Regions from separate parts of the Homo sapiens genome. Here region 2 is linked to region 1. The links come from fine-mapping of genetic effects on gene expression. Tissue or cell type: unexposed skin. Region 1 holds a variant in brackets; the other region holds the start of a gene. All regions are shown on one strand. Distances are between the middles of the regions.

Region 1 (8,000 bases):
GCAAGACATTCTCTAACCCCAACATTTATTTAGTCATGTTAAACGTGGCTGTGTACTTTGTGAGTTATGCAGCATTACTTTTAAATTACTGCTCATGTTTGAAGACTTGAGATCCCAATTTCATAGGACCAGAAACAGTCCATATTCACCCCCTTTAGTATGGCATAGCATAGTATCTAGCACATTGCTGAACATATGACAAATGTGAACACAGAGCATGGATTCAGGTATTGATGAATTTCTAGATGCTTTCTAGTTTAATTACAAAAGAACTTTCTTCCATGAATATCCAATTTACAATAGTTCCTTCCCACCATCATGTCTCTCTACTGGATTTTCATCAGAGCACTTATCTCAAAATATCCAGCTTCTCAATGTGTTACTTGTCTCATGTCGGTCTTTTCCACTGCAATGTAATCTACATGAGAGACCCCTGCTTGTCAAATATCCCTAATAGTCTACAACACTGCCTGGTGACAAAATAGATGTTAATATTTGTTATTAACATCCAGCTCCATGGATAAAATGAAAATGTTTAGAAGTTTTATTTTTATGTCTTGGTATGGATTAAACATAAAAAATAGTATGTCCCTTCTTTGTGTTTGAAGAACTTCACTAAACAACCTGTCAGATGAGTTCTAATTTGCTAAAACTTCTTTCTCCTTTTATGAGGGTAATTTTTCCTTGGGAATTCAAATGTAAAAATGCAAAAAAAAATCTCTAGAGTATTTATATTTTAAGTTTCCAAAAAGTATCTGTGATGATAGGTTATGATATAATTACTAGAACATCACATGTTTGTGTAATGCCTGAAAAATATTCCCTGGGTAGAATTAGCTAACGGTGACTGTATCATGTGTGATACCTAATTGCTCAATGGAATAACACGCTTTGTCTTTTTTGCCCCTCTTTTATGGAGAATGGGGTCTCATTATGTTGTCCAGGCAGGTCTCGAACTCCTGGGCTGAAGCTATCCTCCTGCCTCTGCCTCCCTAAGTGCAGGGATTACAGGCCACTGTACTCAGCCCAATAATATACTTTTAAGGACATTCTCCACTTATCTGAAACTCAACAGAAACATTTACAACCCAAATTAGGAATTACATGCCCGCTGATCACATAGGGCATGCCAAATGTGCCTTATCTTCAATTTTAATGCCATAATCTTATTTCTTAAAACTGTCCTTTTAGAGTTTTGATGTTCAATATACTTTTCAAGCCTTTAGTTGTGCAAGGAAAACATGCTCAATATGCATTGGAAAAAAAAAAAGAAAATCAACTCAATTGTATATGAATGGCAACACCACTGGAAAAACTCAAATATTTTCAGGTAACATAAAATACAAGAAAAATGGCATAATCACTACCGATTCAATGGCTGTGAGAATGTTAGCAACTTATAACTTTTTATTAATTAGGCCCTGATTATACTTTTTTGTCTAAAATAAGAATTTTTTACCTTACACATATACACTCAATTTTTAAACAAGTATGTATTAAAATTTTTCTGTTTACTATGGTATTTCTTTTGAGATATCAGATGTACAAAACTATGTCTTCCATTTGTAGCTGACGTTTTGGTAAAAGAAGATGACAAAAGACAGTGTACTTATTTCAGAATTGCTAGAAACCTGAGTAGAAAGAAAGCAGAATCTATATAATCTTAAAGGGAATTATTTCCAACAATAAAACATAATACAGAATGCCAGGGCCTCGATCGAATCAAAAAGAACAAATTTAGCTTAGGACTTAATAATAAACTCCAGTTGTATTATTAAAATGCAAAATTTGAAAACCATCTTGCAAAGTGACGGAATGGGCTTTGTTAACAATTGAGTTGTTCAATTTGCCTAAAAAGTGGAAACCTTTAAAAACCTCAGAGGTGACTTCCTGACCTTTACTGTATTACAAATAGGCCTGATGTTCAAGATCCACATCCATTATATGCTTGAATGAGCTCAGTATTTATTGTTCTTTCATATCATTAAAAGAGCTAAAAGGTTGGGGAAATGCATAATGTAAAGAAAGGTCAAGTGGTAATCACGGTGTGAAATGCTGTTACATGTGTAACTATAATAATTCTTTAGACTTTATGCTCCCTGGAGAGGAAGTTGTTCAAAATTGTTCACCTACCAAGGTTTATTTTGTGCTAAATATAGCTCCGCACTCTAAATGTTGGAATTAGCCTGACCTTTCGCTCCTCAGCATCAGCGATGGTCTTTTCCCGGCTCACTTTCTCCGTCTGAAGGCCGATCTTTGTGATCAGAGCTTCGGCATCATGATTTCTCAGTTGCAGCTCGGCTTCTTGAGAGGCAAGTCTGGCTTTTAGATCTCCCACCTAAAGCAAAAGTCATTATTCTTACGTCACTGGCCTTGTTCACAACAAATCCCAGATAGAGCTTATTGCTGGGAATGAATTCAGGGATCTCTAACAATTTGTATCTTGCATCTGTCTCTACCCTGATTTTCACTGTCTTCTGATTTGCAAAAATGCAGCCACATTGTTTTTCTCCACATGAGAACAAACAGAATAATATTTTCCAATGATTTTGCAGGAAATATAATTAATTTTTGTCAGCACTAACAGGTTAAGTAGGGAAGTTGCTCTTCCCTCTGTCTGACCACATGCTCCTTTACCCACGTCTGCTTTTGGGTCCTAGGCAGCTCGGGCTCAAGGAAGCAGAGGTTGTGGGAAGACATACTTGGTGATGAGCTGGAAGAACTATGCCTCTCACTGTCCAACAGAAGGTTGCTGGAGGCTTCAGTAAGTTGACGACATGAATGCTCCTTGCCTGACTGCAGATTAATTGGCTGCATATTAAAATGCCCACTGATAGGTCTCACCTCTTCCCATCAAACAGAAAATAGGCCTCTTGATTTTTTTCACCTCATTTATGATCATGAAGCTAACCCAATATTCAACTTAATACCTGCTAAGAAGAGCAAACTGTGTGTTTGGGGTATTAGTATGCTGTGGCCAAAACTCAGTGAGCTTCAGAGGCATACACGTCTCCCATCAGTCCATCACTAAATAACCTTACTCAGCTCTTGGAGAACTCAGCCTTCCGAGGAATCCATGAATTCATCTGCTAAAAAGAACTGTCCATTTTTTTCAGTTATAATTTCATCAGGTTCAGAAAGCATTACTAGGTTCCTCAGTTTGAGGGTCATGTAACTAAAAGCAGAAGTGAGGTACTAGAGAAAAAAAACATGACTCAGTTCTCAGAAATATCTGAAAGCAGCTTTACACATCACAATAATTATCTCTCCACTGCACTTCTTTTCCAAAAGTATAAATATTACCATTAAAAAATCATAGCAGCAAAGAACAATCATAACCATTTACATTTATTTTAACTCAAATGCTAAAGACATTTCAGTGGTTTCATCTTGTGGAACGACGCCCCATTACTATATCCAAGTAATCTTGTAGTTTCCACCCAACACAGTATATTCACACTCTATCTAAAAAGCATGATTACTACTATGGCTGCTACTTGTACTATTATAGATTAAGCTATGACTGATTTTTCAGCCTGTCTATAAATTCAGGGTAACTTTGCATAGTGACATGCTTCTCAGTTCTTTTTAGCCATATGAAACTAGTATTAGATTAGGCCATAGTCAAAAGAATCATCCATCAGGAAAATTCAAGTAAAACCACCATATCACTACACGCCTATTAGAATGGTTAAAATAAAAATTAGAGATGCCACCAAATTATTGCAAGCGAGCTGAGAAACTGGCTCTCTCATACACTGCTGGTAGTAATGTATTATGTCACAGCCATTATGGAAAGAATTTGCCTGTTTTCTATAAATGTAAACATCCAAGTACCACACAATTCAGTAATTTCATTTTTGGTTGTTTGTGGATTTATGCCTACAAAAAAAAAAACCTGTACACGGGTATTCATAACAGCTTTATTTATAATTGCCAAAACCCAGAAATAACCCAGATGCCCTTCAGTGGTTGAATGGTTAAATTGTGCTACCTTCATTCTGTGGAATACTGCTCAACAATAAAAAAGGACAAATTATGGATACACCCAATACCTCGGTTGGATCTCAGGGGAATTATGCTGAATGAAGAAAACCAATACCCAATGGTTACATATTTGTATAGCATTTTTGAAATGACAAAACTATAGAAATGGAGAATAGATTAGTGATGGCCAGGAACTAGGATTCAGGAGGTGGGGAAGAAGTGGGGGGTAACGTAGGTGTGGTTATAAAATGGCAACATGGGATCTTTCTGTAGATGGAAGTTTTCTGTGTCTTGACTGTGTTAGTGAGTACCCAGACCTACATGTGATAAAACTGCATAAAACATACACACACACACACACACACACACACACGTACAAATAAAACTGGAAATCTGAATAAGGTCTGTGGATTGTACCAATGCCACTTTCCTGGTTTTGGCATTGTACTAGTTATGCAGGATGCTACCATTGAACCTATAAGATGTGACAGGGACCTGTCTGTACTATGCTTTGTAATTTCTTCTGAATCTATTATCATCTCAAAATAGAAATAAAGCAAAAAGAATCACCCAAGAGACTAGGACAAAATTATGTTATTTCAAGCCCTAATTTCAGTTTCTAAGGAAGCTGTTAGCTCTGAAATATTCAAAGTGACTGAAGCCGTGGAAGCAAGGCTTTCTCTATGAAGAAAGGTCACTAGGACTATCTGTGATGACCTAAGCTGACATCTAGAGAGAGGTTATTTGGCTATAAAAGGTGCTTACAGCTTTACTGTAAAGAAGGAACATTGCTAATGTTTTCAAATGATGTGGCATTCCTTAAGGCAGACCCTTAGAGGATACATGCCCCAATATACAGGCATTACGCTCTCCATACAACCTGATCTT[C/T]TGCAATATGGTTCTCCAATTCTCCACATAGGAAACCATCCCCTTTTTATAACCCACTTATTTCTAAAACTGCCATGTAGCTATTGAATATTCCAACCACTTTTTTGATAGTAAGAGCATTCCATGCACAAATACCTAATGAAAAGAAATCACCGTCAGTCTTTCCATCAGACTTCATGGTCAATCAAGATGTCTTGTGTCTTTACAGACTTTCTGCCTGTGGTTCTTAGCTAAGGGGAAGTAAAGAGACCCAAGCAGCCCTGGACTTGGCAGACATAGTGAATCGGCCCTCCCGTCTCTCTCCTTGCCCATCCCCCTGACTCATCAATGTGTAACTGAGGTGACTATTAAGAAATCACAGTCTCTCTCCTCTTCTTTTTTCCTGTGGCTGAGATGCTGCCACCACTGGAATGGTCCAGGATGGTACCCCACTTGCTTTTAGCTCACAACCTTTAAGTATGGCAGAAGCACTTATCTCTTTGCTAAGGATGCCCCCACAGTATTGAAAGCTCAGTTTGGGTGACAATACTATCATTTCCTGATAGTGGGCAAAGTCAACAGGTTCAGTTTAGGACGGCATTCAAAGGGATATAAATGCTTTGTGAAACAGAGCTCCTTCCTCGTCTTATCTAGCCCAACAGGACTCCAGGGAAAATCTTTCTTATGGAAAGGGGTCTTGATTTAAATGAGACAGAAGAGGATAGACAGATAGAAGAAAACTGACATGGAGAGGGGCAAAAGTTAAGAAAGTAAAATAAGCTGTGAATAAAAAGAGACAGGAAAGACAGACTTGTTTTTTTTTTTTGAGACAGGGTCTCACTCTGTTGCTCAGGTTGGAGTTCAGTGACCCACTCAACACACTGTAACCTCAAACTCTTGGGCTCAAGGGATCCTCCTGCCTCAGCCTTTCAAGTGGCTGGGTCTACAGGTGTGCGCCACCATGCTCGGCTCATTAAAAAATTCTTTTGTAGAGATTGGGTCTCATTTTGTTGTCCAGGCTGGTCTCAAACTCCTGGACTCAAGCAATCCTCCCCCTTCAGCCTCCCAAAGTGCTGGGATTAAAGGTGTGAGCCACTGTGCCTGGCCTAGACAGACGTTCTTTGAGAGGAAAGGAGAAGGTGCACAAATATGGATATGCTATTTGTGGGTTTCCTAGAAACTATTCTTAATATCACTTGATCCCAACCGTCCTGGAAACCTACTCACCCTGGTTTCTCTTTCCTAATTGTGGTCCATCTACTCACTATTAGTACAGATCACAGTGTTTTGTCACAGAGTCATTCTTGGTATAGAAAACTAAGAGAAAAAGAGGCAAGTGGTGCTTTGGCCCAGAGTGACTGAAGGACATGGCCAGAGAGCCCTTCAGAGTGAAAAGGTGCCCATTTGAAAAGGTGCTCCCTCCTTCGGGTCTCAGTTCATTTCTAGCCTAGCCACAGGTGGGTTACCCAGGCCACTCGGGGAAACCACTGCCCCAATCCTTGTAAAGCATATGAGAGTCTGACCTGATGACATGACTCTGAGAAGGCCACCAGTATTTCTAGTCTTGAGGTGATCACTAGTGAGGATTCTTCTCACTCCAGCTCTAAGTCCTGACTGGCTCAGAATAAGGCTGGGCTACTCTTCAAAGTCTTCAGAGTCTCTCATTCCAATCTCTTCTTTCCAGCCACAGAGAGGCAGCACAGTGCCATGGACAACTCATGGGCATCAGAGCAACACAGACCTGGGTCTAAAACCCAACCTCACTGGCTCTCTGGCCTTAAACTCTTTACGCCTCATATATAAAACTATAGTAGTAACAACTACTTCATGAAATCCTTTTTTAACAACGAAATAATGATAATATGTGTACAGACCCACACATGATTAACATCCTGTGATGATTCTCTCCTGATTTACTCCTGCAAGTTAGAGGCATCGCCCTTCGAGGGAGCAGGGGCCTCAGGACTGAGGACACAGATGTGTAAGAGGAGCAGACAAGTCACTAAGGGAGGAACAGCTCTACCTTGGGATCTCGCCACAGTCATTAGCCAGAAAATGATGCCCTCACTGGAGGTTGAGAATCTGAGACCAAAAAAGATACTGGTCCATCCTAGGATGATAAGAACCTTGACGACAAGTACCGTGCACTGAAGAAGTCAGAGACAAGAGAGGCAATCCGCTGTGTCTGCTCCCTTCAATATCCCACACTACCTTACACTGAGTCAGGCCAGGAAGAGAACGTTTCACCCTAATCCAGCTGTGAGTCGGCCAATCCCATTGTAGGCTTTTGAAAGCAGTAGCAGTGTATTCTTGGTGTCATGAAACTGTAAATTTCACCAGCTGGCATCTTATAGAAATGGATTTAGTAGTGCTTCAAAAGGAAATATATTTTTCTGTTAAACAGCATAAATATTACTCAGTAATAACACATCCTGGTCATACCTGAGAGGCTGTGGTTTTTAGCTTTTGGATGCCGTTCACCAGGCGTTCTTTTTTCTCGGATACCTCATTTTGCTTCTTCTTCAACAGGTTCTTAAACAGTGATATTTGTTCTAGAAAACTCTTTGGGGTGGTATAGTTGTGTCTTCTCTCATTCTGGTAATATCTGGTACTCATTTCATTTACAGTGGTGTGAACATGTGCCATGAAAAGGCTAATAGAGTCTTTGTGCACTGGCTGAAAACACAAACATTACAGTTCATGTGAAATCCTCTCAAATTAAAAATACAACTTAAAAAAAATCAAGTAAATGATCATTTTTTTTCTAAAAGTCAGAAAAAAAAATGATAGTATAACCTACGAAAACTTATTTAATCTTTAAGCGCTATCCACAGGATTTGGGAGATTACAATAAAGCATTCAGCTTGAGTAACCTTCTTCTTGCCAAGTAGGACAAAGGGTTTTTATGTGCTCCACATACCAAATACAAAAGCCAGCATATACAGATCTTCACAACTTGATTTTTATCTACCGAGTGTGTGAAAGAGAAGGTGGAGAAACAGACACAATATCCTGAGAAATATTTCTGCCATTGCTTTCAAACTAAGCTTTAGACAAAGAGAAGCAATAACCCTGCAAAGTCACTGAAAAAAAAAAAAAAGCCAAAACTTAGAAACTCACAGTTTTATGAGAACTCATGTAAAAAC
Region 2 (8,142 bases), 170 kb before region 1:
CACTGGGAAAAAAACGAAGTAACAGGCTCATTCTGCACAAATGTAGCCAGAGTTCATGGCATTATATAGGACATATGTACAGAAAAATGGCAGTGTTAGCATGATCTCAGGGTGGAGTTTTTGACCCTCTGACATCAAAAGGCCACCTCTCAGGCACTTGAAGAGTCAGTGGCCTCAACCAGTTTGAACTGGACAGAAGCTGGCCTAAGTTTCTGAGAAAAAAAAAAAATGGAAGCAACAGTTACCACGGTGACCTATGAACGTTATCTATAAAGTAGCCAGTGAAGTTAAGTCTCAGTGTTCAGTGGTGCGGTGTTCAGCTACTGCAGCCTTCAACTTCGTGGGAAAAGGAAACAACACCAAGAGGCAAATGACCAAAAGCAAGCAGGGGAGGCAGACCTAATGAAATTACCTCTCAGTTTCTATAGACTCATGCTGCTTCCAGCTCTCTGCAGAAGGCAGATTCTCTGGTGAGTTGTCCAGAGCACCAAACCAGCACGATTTTCTGTTATGTGGGGAGGACTAGGGAGTTTGCCCACAACTAAGCTCTGTGGGGACGGCAGAGATACTACTTCAGATAGAGGAGAGATGTTTGGGCTCCTTTTACAAAGCAAAAATCGTGGGCCAGGGTTGACATCCAATTACAGCTCTCTCACATCATTTAATGAGGTTCAATAATGGCTTTGTAGGGGAGTAAAACTTCATCTCCATCCTTTTGGGTCCTGGCTGGGTCTGAGGATTAAACTGACATAAAATAGATTAACAAGAGAAAAGCATATAGATTTGTCTAATCGAAGTTTTATGTGGCATGGGTGCCTTTTTAAGGAAATGAAGACCCCAGGATGAAGTTTGAGTTGGACATTTATATAGTGAATTGCACAGAGTAGTAAAACTGAAAATGCGATGAGGCAAAGGGGCATGGGCTAGTGTAGTTAATTGGGTGGAGAAGTGACTGAGAAGATAAGGGTTAGTTTAACAAGGTTTGTTTGTACAGATTTCCCTCAGCTTCAATTTCCTGTCTTTGATAAGAATGTGGCTTTCCTTCTTGTGTAGGGAGGACAGCTTTCATAGGGGAATTTTATCTCCTGCTTTTAAGAAACAACATTAAGTTCAGAGTGATCTTCTCCTACCTGCTTTTTTTTTTTTTAAGTGCTTTTAACTAAAAATAGTGAATATGCCAGAGCAGCATATTTTAGTGTGGCATTATTAACTCCTTTGGCTTCTAATCACAAATTTCTTACCTTGTTCAAGGTACTGGGGACCAAGTTTTTACTCTCTCATGGAAACATTTAAAAAGCAATCAAGCATGGATTTCTAGACAGACTTCTTAAAAGAAGTTGCAAACATTATGTCTTCTTTTTCTGTGTTGCAATATGTATACTGTTGCATCTGGAAGGGACACTCATTCTTGCAGTGCCATGATGAAACCCAGTGCTCACATCCCGTGAACCCTATCAGTAATAATTATTAGAAAGTATTACTGCAGTGCCATGTTTAAATCCTCTGGTTCCTTAGAGATTTTCCCAAAGCCTGACCAAAACAAAACAAAACAAAACAAAACAAAACACACCACTATATAATCAATTACTAAATACCATCAAACGTGTACAGGCTTTGCTAAGCACAGGAAGAAAATTTAGGGGTTGTCATCTGAAGACTTAGGGTTAGTTATGGCAAATTTCTAAACAGAAAGGTTCAACAGCTTACAGGTTTCCTGATACAGAAGTAGCTAGTCTAGGCTGCTTCAAGTGTTTTGCAAAATCTGACCTGCTTCAAATTTGTGCTCCCTTTTCCAAAATTGATTTGATTTAACCTACAATGAAAAGAAGTGCAAACAAGATCAGCAGTTCATGAGGAAGCAACTATCTAAAAAAAAAAAAAGAGGAAGAAGAGCTCTGATTGAATTAATTTTCACTCTAAGCTTCCTGGCAGCCAAAGGGAAAAAATACAGAAAAATGGAAAGAATGTTGGATCTGGAGGCATAAGGAATGGTTTTCAGTTTGGCAGTCTGCTGCTGTCACTTAGTGGCAGGGTGGCAGGGATCTCTTAATGTATTTTCTTAGATTCTGTTTCCTTATTTTAAAAATGTGGACAATAAGGATCTGGAAGGATATTGAGAGGATTCAAGGAGATACTGCATGTGAAGGAAAACTCTAAAGCATAATAAAAATGAAGTGGCCATAATGAATAAATAACATTATCCAATAAAAACAAAACATTTTAAGTCACACAATGTTGTATTGGTTTTACTACCACCAGGAAGTGAGAACACTGAGGGCTGGAACATGAAAGCACATAACACATGTTGTTTGCTGAACTAACCAAAGGAAGGAAGGAAACCTTTTCCATGTTTTCTCTTCAAGCTTGAGTAAATGTTTGGCAAATTTCATTCACTCGTTCAATAAAGAAAAGATGAACGTCAGATCCTAAGCAGCTGAGAGGGGCTGCAGAAGGTCCTATGCGTACAGGATGCTCTACTGTAAACCTATGACCACGGTTCTAAATAGGTGTGCAACACTGTCCAGCAAACCTGCTGTGATTTCAGGACAACTTCATTTACCATTCTCCCCACTCTCTACTTCAACTCTCCCACAATTTCCACAAACTTAATTCCTCACTCTTCATATCTGAACTCTAAGAAGTATTCCCTGACCTCTATCAGATTGTCTTCCTATTTCACACCACCATTAATACCACTTGCCTTTTTTCTCATGGCATCATCGCTCCAAATTTACATTTATTTGCATCATCATTACATTTGTCATTGATAGTGGTATCAAATTAATATTAATTATAAATCTAATTTATAAAATTTACATCGTTATTACACTTATTTGCATCATTATTGTATTTATTTAGAATAATGCAATTAGGTTGGTAACTGGCTCTCAGGCTGTAAACTCCAACAGAGCAGGGGCCTGTTTTTGTTCACCCTTCTGTTCCTAGGACTAGCCCAGTGCCTGATGCTTAGTAGATGCCGGGGTCAATTCTGTTAAATTAGTCAGCATTCCTGACCTCTACAAACTCTTTGTCTGGTGGGTGTGGAGGCCTACTGTGTAATGGCCGTCTAAAGTTTCAGGCGGGTTTGCATCTGTCCACCTGGGCCTTGGTAAAGAAACCTGGGTTGCCTGTTCTGCAAAGTGAACCCTGTAGCAAATGTTTTGGGAGACAGAATCTTCCCAAAGAGAACCCTGCCCCGTTACAACAACAAAACAAAACAAGCCCCAAAGCCGCCCTACAATATTTGCCTGGATCAGAGACAGGGGTTGCAGCAGAAGCTCGCGCCCCAGGGCATGACCTGGAATAAACCCTGCCAAGTATCCAGCGCGCGTGCCAGCTGGAGGCTGCGCCGGGACAGCCCCCTCATTTCTCCCGCGCTAAACCCCGCCGGACGGCTCCACTCCCTCCCTCTGCTGCAGGGGGGAGCCCGGCGCCCTAACACTGGTAATTGCTCTTGCCGCGCCCAACTGCAGCCCCCTCTCGCGCCGCCTGCGAAGACAAGGTCAGTGGCCGCGAAGTTGGAACGTGATCGGAGCCACGAGGCCCAGTGAGGCGGCACCGAGGGGGCAGCGCAACGCGCTCCCCCTGTCCAGGGCGTCAAGTGCGCCCCTCCCGGGGCCCGCCTGTGCTCCGGGCGGAGCGCGCTAGCTGCTCGGGCGCGGGGCGTTCTTGGTGCGCCGGGCCGTGGTGAGTCCGGGCTCCCGTGGCCGCGTGCTGGGAGGAGACTGGAGCCCGGTTAGGAAGAATGGAGTTGGCGACTCGCTACCAGGTGAGGGTCCGGCCGCCCGCCGCCGTCCGGACGCACCCACAGTTTGACTTCCCTTTGCCACCCGGTCCTGCTGGCCTTGGGCTGGAAACGTGGCCCTTGGCTGCGGCACTGGGGATCTGGCGCGCCCAGCCGGTTGAGTGCCGGAGTGGGCGCGCCCTGCAGGTGTGCGCAGTGGGTCACGTTTGTGCTACGCGGACCACAGAGGCCGGTCGCCCCAGCACACAACCGCGCTCAGCCTGGCGCTCTGCTCAGTCTCGGGTGGCCGCCGGGGGTGCAGGCGGGGAGCTAGCGGGGCGCAGCGCCTGCGTTTGCAGCCCTCGTGAGACGGGGGAGGGGCTTTTTTTGTGCACTCCCCACACTTTCTCCGGGAATTGGCACAGAGATCAGGAAGCTTAAGAAAGTTGTAATTTTTTTTTTTTAACAGTCGATCGCCAGACCAGTCCAACTTGGATAATGGAGTTTAAAAATAATAACTTTAGTGTTTATTCTAGAACTTTTGTAAACGTTTTCAAGGAATTAGTAACCATTTGGGGGAAATGGTAACGTCATTGGGCCGAGTTAAACAAGCTGCAAGATCCCAAATCATATGCACAGCACGACCCCAATTACGCGTTAAGGGCCTAACTCGTCTTTAAAACTCATTAGCAAACACTTGAGTAAGTTCCCCCAAACGTTTCAGTGAGTAGTGGGAATGTGAACGTGACTTCAGTTTTCTCTTTTTACTTCTTAAAAGAGCTTTTCTCTACGTTATCGTAATGGAGATACATGTTTACTTAGAAGTAAGCAATAAAAACATTTTTCATAAGAACTAAAAATACAACCTTTAAAAAGGGAAACAAGCAGCCACGCCTCTGCTTGTGGGAGCACGGAGATGCTTTGTGCGAGGATTGTTTTTTTTTTTTTTTCCACTTGTTTTATTGAGAGTCGCGAGACTCACTGCTTCCACCTTGCTTCCGACTGGTGTTTACTTTCCTCCACCTGCGTGCCTGGCCCGGGAGAAGGGGAGGCGGGGCCGCCAGCGTTGGAAGGCGCAGAGTGCCCGGCGCCCGAGCCCAAACCGCTGTCACCTGCCCGAGTCTGGCGGCAAAGACTGAGCCACTAACGGTAGCTTTGGCCTTTTAGTAATTTCTGAAGCCTTCCTGAAAATGGTCGCTTGAGAAAAATCTGTTGTTGATGTTTCTGAGAATATTTTTAAAATGCCTCCTGTGAGATAAACTATTAAAAGCAAGGGAAACAGTAAAGCCTACGGAATGAGACAGGGTTCGATTTTTTATTTTTTGCCACTGGCTTTTACCGTGTATTAGCATCCTTTTTTTTTTTTTTTTTTTTTTGGAGACGGAGTTTCGCTCTTGTCCGGGGTGGAGTGTAATGGCGCGACCTCGGCTCACTGCAACCTTCGCCTCCCGGGTTCAAGCAATTTTCCTGCCTCAGCGTCCCGAGTAGCTGGGATTACAGGCGCCCGCCACCACGCCTGTCTAATTTTTTGTATTTTTTTTTTTTTTTTAGTAGAGACAGGGTTTCACAATGTTGTCCAGTCTGGTCTTGAACTGCTGACCTCAGGTGATCCACCTGCCTCGGCCTCCCAAAGTGCTGGGATTACAGGCGTGAGCCACCACTTCCGGCTGGCGTCCTAACCTTCTAGGAGTTTCTGTTGCTACAGGACTAAAAACAAAAAACAAACCCTCTGGATGGAGATTTGAGCTCCTTGTGAGTTTAGTCAGAAAATGTATCTGGAATTTATCACTCCGGAGCTCCTTGTGAATGTAATCAGAAAATGTTTCTGGAATGTGTCACTCCTGTTGTTAAGCTGGAGAGTTCTTTGCACTTCCACTACTGATATTCATAATTCATGCTTAGGAAACTCAGAAGTCCCAGAATGTGTAGTTGGAAGTGAGCGTTTACTGCCACACAATGAGGCTAATTTTTGGTAGTTCTAAAATGTTAAATAAACTATTTATCATGTAGGGGTTACCCACAAATTATATCCGATCCATTATGCACCAATTAAGGCAAATTACTATATGTAAGATGATCAGGGTTTTTTTTTTTTTCCTTTTCTGAAGACCTAATTGGCAGTGCAAATCAAAGATGTGTGATGGTTTTTCCAGTGGAAATGTTCCTGTTCATCGTAATTTAAATGTGCACAGATTATAGTCTCTAAATTAGTGGAGAGTGGTTCTGTGGGGTGGGCAGGTGACTGCGGATAAGAACACTTAATGAACATTTCAGGCACAGCAAGATGTTAAATTCGTGTGGTTCCACCCTGTCCCCCAGCCTTATGAATAAAGCAATGTGATGAACCACCTGAAGTGGCATTACTGCACATCAAATGTCGCTCAGCTCAGTGTGCAGTGGGTTTTCATCTCACACATTGGAGTAAGTATAATTTCTATCGCTTGGAAAGCGCAGAGCTAAGTGTTTCAGCAAAGCAGCTTAGGCCTAATGTTATGAGTAAGAAGCAAACAAGGAGACTCATTTACTCTGAACTACTTTCGAGTCTGCTTTCCTGCCATCCCACCAGTGTGTTGGATTTGATGTCCTCTGACAGTGATTACGCTTCCCCCAGGCTGTAGTCTTGTCGTGCTGACCACTGTGTCTTTGTGCTTTTATATAAAATGACAGAAATAGCTCGTAAAGGCAAGGGTGTGATCCCTGACTAAGAGCTGTCAACAGTGCAGCTCATGGGAGCTCCAGCTTGCTGCAGCTCCGTAGGAGAGAAACTGGTAGGCACTGAATGTCAGTGTTCTCCTCGTACTCTGTTCTAGCTCCAGAGTACAGGATGGCCCATTTGAGAAGGAAATGATGCTAAATGTTCTTGTAAATAGGCAGGAGCACGCTGTTGAAGGGGTAAAGGGGTATTTTTCTGGTATTGGTCTCTTAGCTGCAAAGTGCTCCCATCTGATCCTGTTGTTTAACATGTAATTCCAGAGCCCCAGAAGCTGGTCACAGAAAGGACAATGATTTGCCACTCTAATAGTCTTGTATTTAAAACGCTCCTTGGTTGTTCTGTGTTCTGCTGGCTACCCCATCCATAGCAGAGCAGGATTCTCAAAAATCAGGCGAAAACCTCAGAGATCATAATGATTCTGATCAGGTACACAGGCCAGGAAACAATGAGATAATTGTGGCCTAAAACAATTACAAACATTAGAGTAAATTAATGAAAAAGATTAGAACATCATTGGAATAGAATAAGCCAGGCATTACATTTAAACTGCTCTTGAGAGTTTTCCTTTACTCAAAGTTATGTTTTAGAATATTTACCTCCAGTATACAGTTTTGTTTTAGAAAAGACTCGGCTTTATTCACCAAAATGGAATAGATTACAGGCTACTTAAAGTAGGTAGGGATAGAGATAAGAAAATACTACTGGGGCCATTTTGTTCTTTTTGTTTATGAAAAGCAGTGCTTTCTGTAGTTTTTTTGAAATAGGACCATTCAGAGGCATATTTGGTAAATACCACTGAAGTTAACACTCAGAAAAATGTATCTTCCATAGTAGTAAATGCTAGCACCCTGCATGCAGCACAGAAATAAAGTGTGGAGTCTCACAGTGCAAGGGGCCTGAGCTTTAGTTCAAATAAATCGTTGATGTTTCCTGCCTGTTTTCCTTCATGATCATCAGCTGAGGATAGAGGGCTTGCTGACTGGGTTAGTACACTGATCAGATAGTCAGTTGAGCACCGGTTATGTGCTAGGCATTGGTAGGGTGGAAGAACAAAGACACAGAAAACACGCCTCTTTCCCCACACTCTCTACCAGAAGGCCATGCTTGAACTCCCTTCCTCTTCTGCTTTTGCCAGAGCTCAGCTGGCTCCTGCTCTGTGCTATGGGGACCTGGGGGACCTTGGGTTTGGAGAGTAGAGGGAGACCTTAAGAGCCATCCTTTTTTGCCCCCAAGGAATGGAAACTATCACTTCCTTTTAAAAGTCATGCTGTGCTAAGTACTTAAAAGTTATCAGATTTAATCCCCACTGTAGTTCTGTGAAGTAGGTTGTGTTATCTGCCTTTTAAAGATAAGGCTAAATTGACTAATTTGCTCAGGGCAATTTGTAAGGAATTGGCCCTTGCTGCTGGAATCACCGGGCCTTGGTGAGTCAGGAAACTTGCCCTGTTCCCTCCTCCCTTTAACTAGAAGGGCTGGAGTGTTAACAGCAGCTAGTCTGGTTCTTTTTTAGGAACTCACCAGATTATGCTTTATACTGCCTGTAAAAGTCAGTTTGGGAATGTGAATAAGATCCACCAAGCTTTTACATAGGAATGACTTTTATGTGAAATTTGCATTGTACAAACAATAACATGTTACCGTAAGCTGCACTGAACCACTTCTCTGCTTCCCCTACTCTCCGTGCCCCATTTTCTGCAGTTTCCAT

Which allele goes with the higher level. Positions count from the first base shown, and alleles are read on the strand shown. Sizes are in standard deviations (SD) of each study's normalised expression.
In carriers of allele T in region 1, the expression in unexposed skin of the gene that starts at base 3,651 in region 2 tends to be lower than with C alone (small effect, 0.33 SD a copy in GTEx).

What was found. PIP is the estimated chance that this variant, and not a neighbour inherited with it, causes the effect.
Region 2: CDCA7L starts here. The variant in region 1 is fine-mapped to the expression of CDCA7L in unexposed skin (GTEx, PIP 0.97).

What each region holds. Positions count from the first base shown.
Region 1 is chr7:21,773,296-21,781,295 of GRCh38, reverse strand. It overlaps DNAH11 (dynein axonemal heavy chain 11), which reads right to left. Exons shown (of 82, transcript NM_001277115.2): 56 at 7,297-7,530; 57 at 2,192-2,338. Among named protein-coding and RNA genes, the nearest start is that of CDCA7L, 170 kb to the left of the region's middle. The variant C/T (reference allele first, on the strand shown) is at 4,876.
Region 2 is chr7:21,941,408-21,949,549 of GRCh38, reverse strand. CDCA7L (cell division cycle associated 7 like) reads left to right here and starts at 3,651. Exons shown (of 10, transcript NM_018719.5): 1 at 3,651-3,769. The coding sequence starts at 3,746. RefSeq lists enhancers at 3,053-3,302, 2,987-3,697, 3,693-3,842, 7,356-7,976 and a silencer at 3,983-4,032.